2 separate regions of the Homo sapiens genome follow, and region 2 is linked to region 1. Evidence: fine-mapped expression QTL. A gene starts in region 1. The other region holds a variant in brackets. All regions are shown on one strand. Distances are from middle to middle.

What was found. PIP is the estimated chance that this variant, and not a neighbour inherited with it, causes the effect. A credible set is the group of variants that fine-mapping cannot tell apart.
Region 2: its variant is the best candidate, but not a certain one, in a credible set for the expression of SLC35B3 in lung (TOPMed, PIP 0.58).

The regions. Positions count from the first base shown.
Region 1 is chr6:8,430,486-8,440,256 of GRCh38, forward strand. It overlaps SLC35B3 (solute carrier family 35 member B3), which reads right to left and starts at 5,060. Exons shown (of 10, transcript NM_001370479.2): 1 at 4,858-5,060. LOC100506207 (a long non-coding RNA gene) reads left to right here and starts at 5,138. Exons shown (of 5, transcript NR_038980.1): 1 at 5,138-5,693; 2 at 7,455-7,546. RefSeq lists enhancers at 2,068-2,237, 4,688-4,827, 4,800-5,341, 4,838-4,897, 5,098-5,267 and 2 more.
Region 2 is chr6:8,566,450-8,576,220 of GRCh38, forward strand. The region is part of intron 3 of LOC100506207 (a long non-coding RNA gene); the gene reads left to right. Among named protein-coding and RNA genes, the nearest start is that of HULC, 81 kb to the right of the region's middle. RefSeq lists an enhancer at 5,680-5,849. The variant G/A (reference allele first, on the strand shown) is at 5,032.

The DNA of each region.
Region 1 (9,771 bases):
AGTCAATCTTCACTTGTAGAGGAGTAAAAAATAAGTAATTCTCCTTTAAATACTAAGACAATTCTAAGATATATTTGCTAATGACATTTAAAAAATAAACTAAAAAAATGAAGGCCAGGTGTGGTGGCTCATGCCTGTAATCCCAACATTTTGGGAGGCTGAAGCAGAGAGGTTGCTTGAGACCAGGAGTTCAAGACCAGCCTGGGCAACATAGCAAGACCCTCTCTCTACCAAATAAAATAAAATAAAATAAAATAAAAAAATTAGCTGGACATGGTGGTGCATGCCTGTAGTCCTAGCTACTTGGGAGGCTGAGGCAGGATGATCACTTGAGTCCAGGAGTTTGAGGCTGCAGTAATCTATGATTGCACCCCTGCACTCCAGCCTGGGCGACAGAGCCAGACCCTGTCTCTAGAAAATAAATGAAAAAAACAAAACAAAGAAACCCCAAACCTAAGGTCCTTAAAAAGCTAGATTTATCAGAGACTACAGAAAGCACAATATGCTTCAGCAGTAGCATCTCTTAGGTTAAAAAATGTTTTCTTCCTCTGGAACAAATCATTTTAATTTACATTCTTCTGGGATGTAAAAGGCTGGAGAAAACATGTCATTTTTTGTCAGTCTAAAAAAAATTATGAAGCCATCAATTTCTCTTTGGATTTATATAAACTGAAAAAATGAACTCCATGTAAAGACTGAGGAAAGACTGAAGAATTATGACAAAGTATAGAATAAACCTATGTAAAAGAAAAAGTTATTTTCTTAGAAACGACTCATCTGTTTTTAATTCCAGTGGGAACAAAAATTTAAACTCTGCGGCACGAAGAGAAATAAGAATAATTTTGACAGTGAGTTTTCCTTTGGTAATGTTTTTTTAAACTGTTACAAGATGGCTTAAAATGGCCAAAATTAGAGTCGCCTCTTCATGATCACTTCTAGTTTGCTAATTTACAGAGGTTAACCAGGTCATCCTTAGGAATTAAAGGAGGGGTCAAGGATCTGAATACCACTTGTAACTAAAAATATGCAGCCACCACAACATTTTATAGGGCACCTGCCTTATTTCTAAATAGAAAAGTTGTTTCATGAAGTTTACTGTGTTCCTCTTGTTTATTCTTCACTTTCCTTTGTTCTTGCTTCCCACATTATGTTTCAATCACTGTCATTTGTAAGACTTTTTATGTAATCTTGCAGGGTATCTTTGAGATGTGACTTTCTTTTAAAACCATGCTTTAAATTATCTCTCCTAAATATTTGGTCAAACCTGTGCTTGAATGTAGAAGAGACGAAAACCTTAACAATTTACTCTTTTCTATGTGTGAGCATGGATATAGTGCACCATTCAAATAAACCCGGCCTTACATAGGTTTCTAAGTTTGCTCTCCCTCCACTCTCAATAAAGCCCTAAACCACCCATGTTTCATTCCTGAAATACACCAGGGACTTTAAAACACCGCTGCCTTCTGTTCATGATGTCCTTTCAGCCTGAGGTCTTCTTTCTCAAGGTCAGGTTTGGAAGTTCAGCTTTAATATCCCCTCCTTTGTGACACCATCACTAATCCCCCCAGTTATTAGAAAAGAGAACTTGAAAGGCAAGATTCAAATCTTATTTGTCTCTGTGTCCTTGGTACCTGGCATATACTCTGACCTGATATTCAGATGAACCAAATAAACTGATCCTTCCTCTTGATACCCTCAAACTTCAGCTTGCAATCACTCACCTTCTGCTTGGATACGATTTTTGAAATGGATGGTGGTACTGGCAAACTTTATGAGCAAAACTGAAAATCTTATAGAAAAAGAGTGGGGAAAATTTACAAATAATGCTTACATATTTACACATACATACAGAATAAATAAAACTTCTAGAAAATATCTTTCTTTCCTGCTTTTATTGGCATCAAAACATTTCTCCAGAAGGTCACGCTTTCCCAAAGTCACCTTCTTCTGAGATGTTTGTAATTTAGTAAACTGCCAAGCATATTGTAATGACTCAATACAATTATAGGTAATAGTATAAGAAAGCAGTATAGCATAATGCTTTCCCCATGCTTTGGAATTTTGACAGATATGAGTTCAAGATCTGGCTTTACTACTTATTAGCTGAGGAGCCTTGGGCAAATCGTTTAACTTTTCTGAGCTTTAGGTTCTGCACCTTCAAAAGTGGGAGGAGTTAAAAATGTGCCTATCACAGGATTTTGGTTAGGACTATATGAAATAAATGTAAAATTGCCTGGCATATGACAGTCCATAAGTGTGTTAGCTGTCATCCTTCAACTTTTTAGAAATATTGCTAGGGTGATATGGTGTGCTCAAGCTGACTCACCCCTTTGATGTGCAGCTGGAAATACAGACCTGAATTTCCAACGCTGCCTTCTCTCCTGAGATCCAGAGCTCTACGTCTAAATGCTTCTTTGATACCTCTACTCATAAGCTCTGCTGGCACTTCATATTTAAAATGGCCAAAGCTGATTATTTTCCCCTCAAAACAAATCTACTGTTTGTTCCTATATTCCCAATCTCACTTAACAGTACCTAGTATGAAACACAAGCTAAAAATCTGGGAGTCATCTTAAGAATCTTTCCTTTTCCTCACATTCTATATTTTGCCAAGATTCCTGTTAACTCTACCTCTATAACTATATCTAATATCTGTTTCGGACCCTACTCCATCAGGCAGCCATTTTCTCTTGCCTAGATTACGAGACTGTTTATAATCAATTCTTCCCTTTCTGACCCATCTGTCACATGGCTCAACGTGAAGTCTGATCATGCTGCATCCATGAATAAGGCCTCGAAGTTAAAAACGAGTTGATGTCCTGGACTCAATCATATTATACATATTTTTCAAATTCCTAAATGATAATGGTATAGCTTTTTCGTTTTTATACTTGTTTCTCCTAAAAGCCTATGAAATCCTTAAGGCAAGAGATATCTTCCTATGATGTTCTGGCACATAACAAAAATGTAAGATTAAATGAAGGACTCTACCACAGTTTAGCAAGCACCATTTATTTAATCAACGTTATTCAGCTCCTTTCCAACACTTTACCACTTCTAATACACTTCTTGGCAACTTTATGTGCTGCAGATCTAGGCCATATGTGCAGAATGAAATCTCTCTAGCACTGTCTTTTCTACATGTATGCCAAAATACCGACATTGCTACTGAAACTCCCCACAAAACATTTGAAATGAACATGAAAATAAATTTGTTTCCTCTGCCTGAGGCATCAGTCTCATAAAACTTGCCCACCAAAGCCTTGCATTTAGAATGCTGTTTTATTAATAAGAACATCACTGGTGAGAAAGTGTGACTGATAAAGACCTCTGATACCTAATAACTGTGATCATTGGGGAATGTCTGCCATATCCCTTCCACTTCAAACATTAATGACTGATACTAACCATCATCTAAAAAAAAAAATGGGCCAAACTCCTTGTGATGCAAGGAGCAAAAATGAAGCATGGAATTAAAATTAGTTTTCAGACTAAATGATCAACATTGTGCTTTGCTTTTGAAGCTCACAGTAATCAGTGAAACTAAAATATATATATATATATTTTAAAAATCACAGGTGTGTATAATTGCCTGAGGCCTCTTCCTAAATTCAACACAGATATTCAACTTCAACTGCTAAAATGGAATAAAAAGGTAGCATTTCCGGCATACAATGTATATTTAAAAATTAAAATTAGTGATAATGTTGAGTTACAATGACCTATTGAAGTCACAATTATTTCAGTTTATTTTTGAGTTTTCCGACCTGAAGGACAAAAGTCCCACACCAAAAAAAGGTAGAATATGAAAAAAAAGTCATTACGGTGTCATTAACCTGAAAAAACGTGATTTTAACTATACTTTGCCACACTCAACGTTACAAATAAAAGAATCTTACCATGCCATTATGCCTTGATTAACTGCGCTCCGGAATCAATCATGGCCTATGGTGTACGATTATAAAACAGAAAAAACAAAGTTCCATCTCATTTCTTTGTACACACATCATTACACAAAGGTGGAGAAACCCTGTGCTAATGTTTGAAGACTATTCTTTTTTTTTTCCAAGAGAAAAAGTTAACACTAGGACTTTATATATTAAGTAATTAAGTAAAAATAACGCTGTCTAAATTATTTTGAAATGCTGCCTCTCTTCCAAGTTCCAAACTATCTCAATTCACTTAGAAAAACGTTTAATCAAAAAACAATTCTAGGCTTCTGATATCCTAATGTAGAAAAAATGCAGATACTCAACACTTAAGATTTTGTTAGCGCACCAAATCATTCCATCTTTTACTTTCAATATTCCTTAAATAATAAAAAGACGGGAGAGATAATTCAGTTGCAAAGACTGGAGGAAACTTGCAGAACTTCTAGTGGAAGTTTATGCCATAAACTTAATAGCCCAGCCAGAACAATCACATTCTACTGCAAGCCAAATGGAGAAAAGAGTACCTTGGAGTGCCCCTATTTAATAAACACGGAACGAGGAAACAGTTAACTGTAAATACAGTCTAGAGGTATCCAGGTGACTGACAGTTCTCCAGAGACCCCGAGAACAGCGTAAAAGACCCCTTGAGGTCACCTCACCCCTGCGAGTCCACGGATTGGGACCTGAGGGAGTTCTCGCCAGCCCGAGGGCGAAAAACGGGCGAGGAGGAACAGATGCTCCTCCCTGGAAACCGCCCGGCCGGTTTCCGCTCTTTCAAAAAAGGGAATCACCCGTTTCTTCCATCCCGACCTCATCCATTCCTCGAACGCTCCTTCTGGATGAGGAAGATGGGCAGTGTCAAGGTTTTCTGGAGGAGAGGAGATCTGGGTCCCAAACACAGGAAAGGCCCCGAAGGCACGCGTACCCCAAGGCCGGTATGTCACCCGGAAGGGTGACGGCAGCCTGCGTGGCGTCTGAGCTAGACGGAGCATCTCCCCCTCCCCTGGTCCGTCGCCATCACCTCCTCTTCCTCCTCCTCCTCGCCCACTCCTGCACTTTCCACCGCGGCGGTCGCCTCCCCGGAAAGCACTCTCAACTCCGGCGCCCGCAGGCCACTTCCGCCTATGTGTCCCTGCGCGCGTGCGCAGACGCGTGGCCCCGCCTCCCGACAGGCCTGTGTGGCCGGTGGCGGGCGGGCCGTTACCTCCCGCGCATGCTCTATGGGGTAGAGACGCTAGGCCGGCACTGCCTAGGTGGGCCGGGCGGTGCGAGGGTCGCCTTTCAGCCTTTACCTCTACCCACTGAAATGGAGTAGGTCGGTGAGCGCCGATCTGCTGGAGAATCTCATTATCCCATCGGCGCTCTGCCTGCTCCTGGCCTCCAAGCCTCTGAAGCCCCTCGGGTTTCAGCTGCCGGCTACCCTCGAGCCCGTGGTGCCCACGAGAGAGGCGACTTTACGTCAGCGGCCCTGGGCTGAGATTTGAGAACGCGACCAAGTGGAGAATGTTGGAGCCAGATTTTAAAATCCTTGTCTTCCTTCTGCGTGCTACTTGATCTAAATGAGATACGGCAAAGTCACAGAACCTGTTTTTATGTTTTTGCCTGATTCATACGGGCTTCTCCGGTGAAGATGGGCCTGAAGTAACGCTTGGGTTGCTTCTGACGTTATAACTCATCCTGTAGCTGCAGCAACCGTGGTCCTTGCAACCTCATAAAAATGTTGCCAGCATTGTTTCGATAGTGCTGCTTAATTCTTGGAAGGTAAATCTCAAAGCTTGAGGACCAGCCATCAAAACTTTTGTAAAAGGTTTTCCCCGCGTTTAGGGCCTCATCCATCACCACTGAGATGTAATAACGTAAAAACCAAGACGGTTTGGGGATGAGCTGTTTTCAGAGAATAATTAAGGAAAATATTACTGTAACGAAGATGGACAATTTTTGAAAGCATGCCTTGAATACCAGAAAGGGATGAATTGGATTAATATGTATGTTAGAATCCAGTCAGTTATGGACAACTTTTAAAATTTTACAGGCACTCTTCAGAAAGGGTAGCATTTGTGTCTTGTATTGGGATCGAGGGTTTGTAAGAAAGCAAGGCACCTACTTTGGTGGTGAGAAAAAAAGGTCTGGGTAGACATTTTCGTTTAATACTTGCCAACGTTGTTAGGCTGGTGTTAGCAACACTTAGGAATGTTGGAATTAAGGCTTAGAGAACTTAAATTTCCTAAAGAGATAGTAAATGACAAAACCTTTCAGTGATGCCATATCGTCACTGTATAATGTGAATTTAGTACTACTGTTAGCCATTTATATGGTGGTTATTTATCAAGTATTTATTAAATGGGCATATGTATAGCTCATATCGTAAACTATGCGTATGAGCTCCCTGTCCTGAAGAAATTAGGGGTTTCCATGAGAAAGTAAATGGCAGTATAAAACAACTTAAGGTACAAGAGGTGTTACAAGGTACCATCTGCTCATGCCTGGACAATTGCAGTAGCCGTGAGCATAGCTTTCTGCATTCCCTTTATTTCTCTACATAGTTGCATTCAGCAGCTGGAGTGATCCCATTAGAACCTGAATATGCCACTCCTCTGTGCAGAACCTTTTAGCGGTTTACCATTTTACTCAGATTAAAGTTCAAAATTCTTACCCTGACTTTTAAGACTGAACTTATTCTTGATGGATCACATCCAAGCTACACTTCAGAGCTTTTCTAATTGCCCCCAAGCACAGCAAGCATCAGTGCTTTGTAGCTGTTGTTCCTTCTGCATGGAACACTGCCCTCTCAGATGTCCACAGAGCTTGCTTCCTCATTTTTTTCCAGTCACTGCTCAAATGTCACCTGGCTCTTCTCTGACTACCATGTCAGTGAAATATTTTTACATGTCAAATGTGAAATGTAGGAGAGACTATCTGGAGTAGTACTTATTATAGAGTAGGTGTTTAATAAATATCGACTCTCTTACAATACTTCCCATTTACTCCTGTGATAACCACGTGGTAAACAAAATTAAAGACTTGCAGCTATGAATTGTTTTTTATTGACTGATTGACTGATTGAGGCAGAGGCTCACTCTGTCGCTCAGGCTGGAGTGCAGTGGCACATCTCAGCTCACTGCAACCTCTGCCTCCTGGGTTCAAGCCATTCTCCTGTCTCAGCCTCCCGAGTAGCTGGGATTATAGGCGCCTGTCACCATGCCCGGCTAATTTTTGTATTTTTAGTAGAGATGGGGTTTCACCTTATTGACCAGGCTGGTCTCGAACTCCTGACCCCAAGTGATCCACCCACCTCAGCCTCCCAAAGTGCTAGGATTATAAGCGTGAGCCACTGCGCCTGGTCCTATGAATTGGTTTTAAATTTTTAAGAAATTAATAATTCTGTAGTATCAGAAACCTTTGGTGTCTTGATTCACATCTTCTGAGCATCACCTCTCATTTCTGACTTGGTTGTGGGGGGCAGTTTCATGCAATCTTACACATTCTTCTCCCTGACAGCTTCTCCTCTCCCACATTTACCAGGCCTCTTTGCTTTCTTCCCTGAGGTTCTTCGGACTTCACACATTCCAGCAGTAGCTCTCTCAGCTCCTGTCCTGCACAGCTTTGAAGTGCTGGTAAGTCAACACATCTGGGGCCCTTCAACCAAGGGGTGACAGTCACTGATGGATAAATGCTCTTGCTTCTTACACTTGAGCAAGATAGTTTTGTAGGCCATTCTGTGTGTTTTTCAAAAAGTCCCAGTGAAATTGGGTTCTGGTTTCTCACAACAGCAACTTCAATAACACATTCTTGTATTATGTCTATATTCTCCCTTCCATTCTCTCATTGTTTCTCACTAGGATCACATCCCAAATTACCTGTCCCCACATAAGTAGTTGTCTCAGGTTTTGAGGGAAACCAAGCTAAGAAATTTGATGTAAGAAGAAAGTCTAGAATGCAGCTCCTCAGAACTCTGGAAGTGGGTTACTTTGCAGTCAGATGACAACAAGGACTTTCTTAGTGATATTAAGGGGAGGACATGTGCATGGCCCAACAATTAAGGCTCTTTCTTACTAAAGCCGATATGACTACTGCCTCTTTGGATGTCCAGCCCATCAGCAGCAAAGATTGATGGTAAATTCCATAAGGAGAGCAATTACACAAAAGTCCTTCCTTCCTGGAGAGAGCCGTGGTTTGTACTTACGGAACTGACACTTCCCTTGATATGACTGGTCTTGTTCATGGTGCCTCTGCCAGTACCATTATATAACAGAGTTACAAACACATGATTGATTGACTTCCTTCCTTCCTTCCTTCCTTCCTTTCTTTCTTTCTTTTTTCTTTCTTTCTTTCTTTCTTTCTTTCTTTCTTTCTTTCTTTCTTTCTTTCCTTCTTTTTTTCTTTCTTTTTCTTTCTTCCTTCCTTCCTTTTTCTTTTTCTTTCTTTCTCTTTCTCTTCCTTCCTTCCTTTTTCTTTTTCTTTCTTTCTCTTCCTTCCTTTTTCTTTCTTTCTTTCTCTCTTTCCTTTCTCTCTCTCTTTTCCTTCTTTCTTTTCTTTTTTCTTCCTTCCTTTCTTTTTTCTTTCTTTCCCTTCCTTCCCTCCATCTCCTCCCTCCCTCCCTCCCTTCCTTCCTTCCTCTTTCTTTCTCTCTTTCCCTCCCTCCCTCCCTCCCTTCCTTCCTTCCTTTCTTCCTTCTTTGACACAGAGTCTCACTCTGTTGCCCAGGCTGGAATGCAGTGGCACAACCTCTGCCTCCCAGGTTCAAGCCATTCTCCTGCCTCAGCCTCCCCAGTAGCTGGGATTACAGGTGCCTGCCACTACACCTGGCTAATTTTTTTGTATTTTTGGTAGAGACACGGTTTCACCATGTTGGCCAGGCTGGTTGTGAACTCCTGACCTCAAGTGATCTGCCCACCTCAGCCTCCTAAAGTGGTGCAATTACAAGCGTGAGCCACCACACCCAGCCCAAACACATGATTTTCTGATGTATTGCCTCCAACTAAAGGACACACTTTATGGTAAAAGAGGTGTGACAATGACACACGACCATGGAATTCCACTGGTCCTACCATATATTGTATCAACTGGAGGAAATTGGCCTGATAGAACACTGACATTGTTTTGTGAACATCAGCAAGTATCCTTTTCAGGAACAGTGCTCAGATAGGGTTGAGATGCCGTCACTCCTGACACACACACACACACACACACACACACACACACACACACACACCTGGCCCTTGGGAAGTTTGGTGGCATTAACACCCCCAGGCAATGATCCACCAATGGGGAATGGGCACCTATGGATAAATGCCTTCCATTTCCTAGGAGCAATTTTTGGGAGGTGTTTTTATGTATTTTAGGATGTCCTAGATAATCAAGTCATGTGACTTGGGGGAGCGAGAAAGAGAAACCAGCAGTGGAGACTTAGAAGAAGCAGCTGTTGACATAGGATGGGTCCAGGAATGTACAGTCTTCTAAAAGCCAGGTGAAGACAATGTTTAAAGGAGGAAGGAGTGATCAACAATGTCAGTTCGTGTCAATTGGTGTTACTTAGTCATGTGTCTGTGAAGAATCATCTTGCATAGTTAAGTCTCAGGTTCTAGTGTCAGATTAAATTTAAATCCTTGCACCACCCCTTGCTCTTTGAGTGTCTTTGTGCAAATTGCTTAAATTCTCTAAGTCTCAATCTCCCCATCTGTGAAATGGGAATGACAGTAGTACCTATGTGGTAAATTGTAGTGATGAGTAAGTGAAAGATGTTTAAAGATGGTTAAATGGTTAGCACAACACCTATTACCTGACAAACACTTAGTAAAAGTTAGCTATTAATATTCTTATTAATATAGCCTACTATCAT
Region 2 (9,771 bases), 140 kb after region 1:
ACTTTCCCTTTTTCCTTTCTCCTATATTTAAATATTTTAGCAATATTAATTTAGAAATGTCTAAATTTTTCTTTTTTTCCTTTTTTTTTTTTACTTCTCTTTCCCATGTTCTTTTTTTTTTTTTTATTATACTTTAAGTTTTAGGGTACATGTGCACATTGTGCAGGTTAGTTACATATGTATACATGTGCCATGCTGGTGCGCTGCACCCACTAACTCGTCGTCTAGCCTTAGGTATATCTCCCAATGCTATCCCTCCCCGCTCCCCCCACCCCACCACAGTCCCCAGAGTGTGATATTCCCCTTCATGTGTCCATGTGATCTCATTGTTCAATTCCCACCTATGAGTGAGAATATGCGGTGTTTGGTTTTTTGTTCTTGCGATAGTTTACTGAGAATGATGATTTCCAATTTCATCCATGTCCCTACAAAGGACATGAACTCATCATTTTTTATGGCTGCATAGTATTCCATGGTGTATATGTGCCACATTTTCTTAATCCAGTCTATCATTGTTGGACATTTGGGTTGGTTCCAAGTCTTTGCTATTGTGAATAATGCCACAATAAACATATGTGTGCATGTGTCTTTATAGCAGCATGATTTATAGTCATTTGGGTATATACCCAGTAATGGGATGGCTGGGTCAAATGGTATTTCTAGTTCTAGATCCCTGAGGAGTCGCCACACTGACTTCCACAATGGTTGAACTAGTTTACAGTCCCACCAACAGTGTAAAAGTGTTCCTATTTCTCCACATCCTCTCCAGCACCTGTTGTTTCCTGACTTTTTAATGATTGCCATTCTAACTGGTGTGAGATGATATCTCATAGTGGTTTTGATTTGCATTTCTCTGATGGCCAGTGATGATGAGCATTTTTTCATGTGTTTTTTGGCTGCATAAATGTCTTCTTTTGAGAAGTATCTGTTCATGTCCTTCGCCCACTTTTTGATGGGGTTGTTTGTTTTTTCTTGTAAATTTGTTTGAGTTCATTGTAGATTCTGGATATTAGCCCTTTGTCAGATGAGTAGGTTGCGAAAATTTTCTCCCATGTTGTAGGTTGCCTGTTCACTCTGATGGTAGTTTCTTTTGCTGTGCAGAAGCTCTTTAGTTTAATTAGATCCCATTTGTCAATTTTGGCTTTTGTTGCCATTGCTTTTGGTGTTTTGGACATGAAGTCCTTGCCCATGCCTATGTCCTGAATGGTAATGCCTAGGTTTTCTTCTAGGGTTTTTATGGTTTTAGGTCTAACGTTTAAATCTTTAATCCACCTTGAATTGATTTTTGTATAAGATGTAATGAAGGGATCCAGTTTCAGCTTTCTACATATGGCTAGCCAGTTTTCCCAGCACCATTTATTAAATAGGGAATCCTTTCCCCATTGCTTGTTTTTCTCAGGTTTGTCAAAGATCAGATAGTTGTAGGTATGCGGCGTTATTTCTGAGGGCTCTGTTCTGTTCCATTGATCTATATCTCTGTTTTGGTACCAGTACCATGCTGTTTTGGTTACTGTAGCCTTGTAGTATAGTTTGAAGTCAGGTAGTGTGATGCCTCCAGCTTTGTTCTTTTGGCTTAGGATTGACTTGGCGATGCGGGCTCTTTTTTGGTTCCATATGAACTTTAAAGTAGTTTTTTCCAATTCTGTGAAGAAAGTCATTGGTAGCTTGATGGGGATGGCATTGAATCTGTAAATTACCTTGGGCAGTATGGCCATTTTCACTGTAATTTATTTACATCCAATTTAGGGATTGATAGTAATACAGTAAAAATTTATTCTCACATTCACTCTACTATATTACTGATTATTCAAATAATTTCTAAGCTATGTCAATCATTGGCCTGGTGCAGGCTCTATAAAGATGACATAACATACATCTGTCTTTGAGGACCTTGTAGTCTTCCTGGTGAGACAGATTATCATGCATAAAACTTTCAATGATACTAGCTTTTTTTTTTTTTTTTTGAGACAAAATCTCACTCTTTCGCCCAGGCTGGAGTGCAGTGGCGTGATCTCGGCTCACTGCAACCTCTGCCTCCTGGGTTCAAGTGATTCTTGTGCCTCAGCCTCCTGAGTAGCTGGGATTACAGGCGTGTGCCACCACGCCTGGCTAATTTTTGTATTTTAGTTAGAGACGGGGTTTCACCATGTTGGCCAGGCAGGTCTCAAACTCCTGACCTCAGGTGATCCACCCAGCTCGGCCTCCCAAAGTGCTGAGATTACAGGCATGAACCACCACACCTGGCTGATACTAGCTTTTACAGAGTTACAAAGAAAATGGGATTGAGCACAAAGATAGGCTAACTATATGAGGAGTTCATGAAAGTCTCCTCAGAAGAGGTGACATTGGAACTGAGTCTTAAAAGATGAGTAGGCAGCTTCAGTTGATGAAGGTGAGAAAGAATATCCCAGGAGGGACAGCATGCTTCTTATTATGGCAAGTCTTTATTTATTTATTTTTTAAATTTAAAAAATATTTAAGTTTTATTTTAGGTTCAAGAGTACATGTGCAGATTCGTTATACAGGTAAATAGTGTGTCGTGGGGGTTTGGTGTACAGATTATTTTGTCACCCAGGTAATAAGCATAGTACCCAATAGGTAGCTTTTCGGTCCTCATTGTCCTTCCTCCCTCTACCCTCAAGTAGGCCCAGGTCTCTGTTGTTCCCTTCTTTGTGTCCATGTGTATTCAATGTTTAGCTACCACTTATAAGTTAGAACATGCGGTATTTGGCTTACTGTTCCTGTGTTCATTCGCTTAGAATAGTGGCCTCCATCTCCATTCATGTTGCAGCAAAGAACTTGATCTCATTCTTTTTCATAGCTGTGTAGTTTTCCATGGTGTACATGTACTACATTTGCTTTATCTGGCCTATCATTGGTGGGCATCTAGGTTAATTCCATATCTTTTTTTTTTTTTTTTTTTTTTGAGATGAAGTCTTGCTCTGTCATCAGGCTGGAGTGCAGTGGTGTGATCTCGGCTCACTGCAACCTCTGCCTTCTGTATTCAAGCAATTCTCCTGCCTCGGCCTCCTGAGTAGCTGGGACTATAGGCACACACCACTGCACTTGGCTAATTTTTGTATTTTTAGTAGCGACAGGGTTTCACCATGTTGGCCAGGATGGTCTCGATATATTGACCTCATGATCCGCCCCCGTCGGCCTCCCAAAGTGCTGGGATTTCAGGCCTGAGCCATTGCACCCGGCTGATTCCATATCTTTTATAGCAGATCTTGATGTGCTTAAAAATGATGAGGACTTTAGTATACTGGAATGAATTTAGAGGCATATTGGTGGCTTAATGGAAGTGGAGAGGAGTTTAGATAGAGTTACCAATGGGATAATAGGCCAGAAATAGATTGGAAGGGCCTTGAGAGCTAAAATAAGAAATTTGGGTCTAAATCTGAAAGGGATAGGAACCAAAAGGAATTTTAAAGCAAGTGGTTGACATGATCAAATTTAATAATTAGGGAAATAGCTAATGTCTTTCAATACCCTCTGACTTGGTCAGGGAGTTATGAGACAGGAAGCTATCTTAAAAAAACCCAGGCGAGATATTATAAAGTCCCAAAATATGACACAAAGGATGGGACAGAGGATTAGATTTAAGATATTTCTGCTACATATCCCAGAAAGAAATAGAATGTTTAGAATTTAAAGCATTTTAGGAGGGAGCATAAAGTGAGATAACATGTGAATTTCACACTGAGATTAAAAATTTACAACTGAACTTTAGATCTTACCAAGGGAACATATTTTAAATAGCCTTGAATTTTGGTCTGCTAAGTTATGTTTAAATGTTAGTAATGTTCAAGCAAGAAGAGTCTTTTCCTTCCAAAAAGAGTGCTAATGTACACTTTCACACCTCCTTAAATATCTACAGCATGAAACACCCTACGCAGACATATCTGGATTTCCTGGAGCTATCAGTGCCTTTTGTGTTGTGAGACAAAGGCAATCCAATAAAGACATGTCTGTTCCCCAAGTGCTCACCAAAGTCACGGCTCAGAGAGTGCGCATTACAGTTATGTCTTTTCTGGGTTTTATATTTTAAAGAATATGATAATAAAAAGGAAAAACAAGCTTCCTGGTAAACTGTATTTATAGCCTCATAGACTGTAAAGGTTTCAAAGTTTAAAGACACTTAGAGCAAATGTCTTCCTTTTTCAGCATTAGCCTTTTTCTCCAGCACCAAAAGTGTGGAAGGCAAAAGCCTGCGAAAGAGAGGAAGTAGTGTAAGACAGTGTGGGAGGTGTTCTAAGTCTGGGCTCATGATCCTCTAAAATACATGGGTCTTCAAGCCTGCAGACAAGCTACAGAAGCCCTTCCAGCACCGTGAAATTGTGGAGACAACTGTGGCAGATGCATGGATGGCCTTTTTTTTTTTTCTGGGGAAATACTTCATAGTTTTCATTAGAATCTACAGCCTTAAACCTTTGACTATATAATTGGACACGTACAACAAATGGCTATCATATAGATGAGTATATTATCAGAGCAAAAATAATGATTCAGATAAGTTCTTGCCACTTCAGAAGATACAATTAATTTGTCTCAATGGATATGAGAGTGATCTACTTAGTTATGGATATTTGCAAAGTTTGTTTAAATAGCTCCACAACTTTGGACATGCTTACCTCTCCCAGCCTTTTTTTTCCCCCATTACTATCTCCTAGGTTTGCTGTGACGTAATTTATGTAGACCAGTTTGCACAATCCTTGGAAAATGTCTTAATTATATATTTATGACAAATTTGGATATGACATTTGTTATACATCTGTATGCAGGGCAGCTTTAAATATAAAACTTAAGCTTAGTGAATTGTTAAAAATTAGTCATATTTCACTTATGATCATCTCCTCTTGGAAGCTGAAGAAAGAAGATCAAGTAATAAGGATGTTTATATTTTCTAAGTACTATTTTTAAGAAGTTAAATGTTAGTTTCTGGTGTCATGAATGAAGAATTGGAGCAAATGAGAAATTCCAGTATATGGCTTGCTTCGGAGTGAATGGCCAAAGTATTGTGATAAAGTC[G/A]CTAACCTTTGGGAGGATGTACAGCCGATAAGAGTCAGGCCCCATTTCCAATGAGCAGGCCCCATTCCTGATGACAAGAGTTTTAAGAACATACAGTAAAAAGATTGAACTCTGATCAAAGGCCACAGCTGCTACGCTCCGCATGCTGCTTGCTGGGTATGGAGTCAGCCCTGGAGCTCTAACCTGATTCTTCAGCTTTGGCAACACAAGCATTTGAAATGTGGGAGAAGGTGGGGCCTAGCATCATCAAGTCATAGTCTGAGAGGTCTTGGTCACTACCGTGACCTCCTTCACCAGCTCACCAGTCTGAGGGAGAAGCCCAGGCTGCCACAAGGCCTTGTCTTACAGGCAAATAATTAATTAAGATGGAAACTTATATGTCTACTGACCTCCAGTGATTAGGCCTCTGGTTCAGGAGCTGAGTTTTGAGGACTTACTTAAATTAGGAAGACTATGACAGTTGTCCTTCCTTTCTCCCAACCTCCGTCTTCCCCCCATTGTTCCTCTGGGTAGCTTAGAGGTCACCTGTGGAACATTTAATGGCCCTTTTATTTGATATTTTGGTACTTATATATGTCTATCTTCTCAGATAAGCTTTTCCTCTGACAGAAAAGATTTTAAAGACATTTTAGTAAAACAGAATAAAACAACCCAGGCATGAGACAAACTGATTATTAGTTGGAGATTTGGTTGGAAGATATTAGCTAGCCCTGAAGCAAAAACACAGTTTTCTTCATGCTTTTCTATAACAGTATTCATAAAGTTACATGTAAGTTGGACAGCTTATGGTTGAGCAGTGACTAAGAAGAGAAATTGGGCTGCAACAGAGAGCACAGGCATTGCTGCCAGCCAGACAGGGCTTGAGACCAAGCTACCGATTCTTAGCGATATAATGGTGAGCAATTTGCTTCACCTCTTGGAAATGTCCTCTTCGGGGAAATGGAGGTGATAATGCCTCAGCGGGTAGTTTTAAGAATTAAAGGTAAAATGTGCAAAGTGCCTGGCACCAGTGACTACCGAGTAAATTAAAAATATTTTATATTTCTTAGTGTTCATTTCTTGCTCTGCCTTAAAAAAACTGCACATCAAATACTTTATTCTTCTGCATGCAATGCATTTTTGTAAATCATCTATTGCACATAGTGTTAGGTGCTTGGAAACAAAGAGGAGTAATGCAGATCTTTGATATTCAAAGAAGTACTAGCTTAGCTGTGTTTGGGGTGCTTGTGTACATGTCCAAAGAGTGAAGCATAATAATTCCTTGTCTTTTTGAAAATTTTATCTAAACAAAATGAAATCAATGAATTAATATTTTTGGAGTGCGTAGGTGACATAGACGTTCATAGATGACTTTTACGTAGGATTAGAGGGTATAGAATTCTAAGCGGCTGAATCCTGAATTCTGACATACAACACTAGGGACTTATGGAAGCTAATCACATAAACATAGCTCCTTTATTTTTCCAATAATAGTTTAAAATTTTTCACGTTGGATTTTATCTGAAGTCAATCTGACTTGACTTCCAGGCCTTCCTCTCTTTTTTTTTTCTCCAAAACACCTGATGACTGAGTCCATCAAGTTCCCAAAATAGATTTACACATTTTTAAAAACAGATAATCAAGTTTTACTTTCATCTGTGGGTTTTTTTTTTTTTTCTCAAAGTCCAGGAAACTTTGTAACACCTGCTTTGCAAAATAAGCAAGTAATCATCTATTTTGGGGACGGAAAATAGAGGAGGTGAGAAATGAGTTAACTGGCTTCAACTCTTGTTATTTGGGCATGGAAATTATTTGTTCAGTGATTTTTGCCACAGCCATAGAACAACTTTTGCATTGCTTTGGTTTCTCCATATGCTTTGGAGAGACAGGAAAGAGAATATTGCACTAAAAATCTTGTTTCAGTTCAAGGTAATTATGCATATATTTAGGCTGAATAGGGAAGAGGCATTACTGAAATAAAAGTGTTTTTAATACAATTTGGAAGACATAAATTAACACATTGAGAGGAAAATGAATCAATAATTTTATTTTAGAACTGAAGGGGATTTTAGCGATCATCTTGTTTAACCGCCATGTTTACAGATGAATGAACTGTTATGTGTTTTGCCCACAGTAGGTCACACAAACAAAGGTGTCCTGACTTCTAGAATAGGCCTTTGTTCCTCTCTCACTGTAAATACATGACTATCCTGCAGAATGGCCTAGTAGATATTGTCATGTTGCTGTTCCTGGTTGGGAGGACTGGGTGCACGTACAAATAAAGTTTACATAATACCTGATACAGAAATCTTGGTGCCCTAAAGTAACTATTTAATGATGATGCCTTTGCTCTATTCAGACCAGCAAAATGAGCACACATTTCTGGCTCCATTTAATAAATTGCCTCCTTGAGGGCACTAAATCCTGCTCTTCAGGAAAAGCTCATTCACCTCACATGGGTAAACAGTTTGCTTCTTCATGAATTCTGCTGTTTACTCACAACAGTGGAAAGCCTGTTTTGTGTTATTGCCGTTATCACAAATCTGGAGACATCACTGCAGATTGGAATGAGGTGGCGGGAGACCGTTGCCTAAGTGGGTATTGTTCAGCACAGCTTAATAGAAAAGGTTGACCAAACATGTTAGAGTTACCATCGAATAAGTTTATTGGGGGAACCAGCCCCCAGTATTTCAACATAGGTTCTTTTCTATTTTCCCTAAGTGTCGGCCGGTCTGAGAAATAAACAGAAAGAGTACAAAAGAGAGAAATTTTACAGCTGGGTCTCCGGGGGTGACATCACATGTTGGCAGGTTCCGTGATGCCCACCTGAGCCGCAAAACCAGCAAGTTTTATTAGGGGTTTCAAAAGGGGAGGGGGTATGAATAGGGAGTGGGTCACAGAGATCACATGCTTCAAATGGAACTTATCTTTAGTAATGGAGAGCTTTTCAAATCTAGTTAATTTTGCCTTTCAAAGTCACTGTGAATGGGTGAAAAGTAAAATAGCTCATCCGTAGATCGTAAGTTAATATTGCTGAATTTTAAAAAATTTGATGAGTCAGAAAAATTTGCATTGGTATCATCTACATTCACTTTCTACCTTTAACTTCATTACTTTCCTTCACACATTGACCTGTGATTCCCCCAGAGGCAAAGTTTCAAGGTCAATTATGTGAAAGTAGTTTTAAAAGTGGCCAGTCCAGACATGGATTTGTGAAAAATAAAAATGGAGTTCAAGCAGTCAGAATTCTGTAGTATTCTTCACTCTTTTCTTTATTTTTCAAATAAAACTTTCTAAATATTGTAGCTCAAGATAGATTAATGATTCCAGTTTTTAAGTATATTTAAAGCTCAAGTTGTTGGATTTTTTAAAATTTTGACTCCTCCCTTTCTCTTTCTCTTTCTCCCTCCCTCCCTCCCTCCTTCCTTCCTTCCGTCTTCCTTCCTTCTTTCCTTCCCTCCTTCCTTTTTCCCTTCCTTCGTTCCTTTTTTCCTTTTTTCCTTCCTTCCTTCCTTCCCTTTCTCTTCCTTTCATTCTTTCTCTCTTTCTTTCTTCACAATATAGGTTAAAAAGGAATAGTAACAGATGATCATTTATACTCCTGTTGCTTCACTCTGAAGAATTCTTTGTTCTCCTTATCCATGCCTTAGCCAAAAGCTACAAATGAAAGAAAATTTCAACCCCATGTAAATTTTTTGGAACATCGTACCATATTGGTGGACGTAATACAGTTTCGAAGCATTAGGTCCTTGTTAAGAACAATTCATTAATATTTTTCTATTGGATCAGACTTACAGATAAGGTCTGCTTCTAATGATGTCATCAATAAGCGTTTCACATGGGAAATAATGGGAAATACATTGTGTTGTTGATTATATATATTCAGGGAGTTTTAGGTGAATTTAATAGTGAATTATTAGTGGAGCTGCCATTAACTATTTTAAAATATGTATGTATTCATGCAATTCTTTAATCCTTAAGGAGCATAACAGGACTGAATTATCCTTCTGTCCTAGTCTGTTTGGGCTGCTATAACAAAATACCATAGACTGGGTAGCTTATAAACAACAGGAGTCTGGGAAGTCCAAGATCAAGGCCAGCAGATTTGGTGTTTGATGAGGGCCTAGCTCACAGATGACATCTTCTACTGTGTCCACACATGGTAGAAGAAACAAGCTAGCTCTCCGTTTTTGTTTTTTTTCAATAAAGGCACTAATTTCATTCTAAAGACAGATCCCTTATTGCCTAGTCACCTCCCAAAGGCCCCACCTCCTAATACCATCACTTTGGGATTAGGATTTCAACATAGGAATTTTGGAAGGACACACACATTCAGACTATATACCACCTTCTTTTTAAATTTTTTATTATTTTACAGACAGGGTCTTGTTTTGTCACCCAGGCTGTTGTGCAGTGGCACAAACATAGTTCACTGCAGTCTTAAACTCCTGGGCTCAATACATCCTCCTGCCTCATTCTTCTGAGTAGCTGGGACTATAGGCACATGTTCCCATGCCTGGCTAATTTTTAAAGAAACATTTCTGCAGAGACAGGGTCTTGCTATGTTGCTCAGGCTGGTTTTGGATTCCTGATTTCAAGTGATCCTCCTGCCTTAGACTCCCAAAGCATTGGTGTTACAGTTGTGAGCCACTGCACCCAGCCCATAGCACTTTCTAATATTACTCTTCAGAATTTTAGAATCTTACTTATGACTGGCCTCGTCCTTGCCTTTTCAGATAGAAGAGTTATATTTTCAAAAAC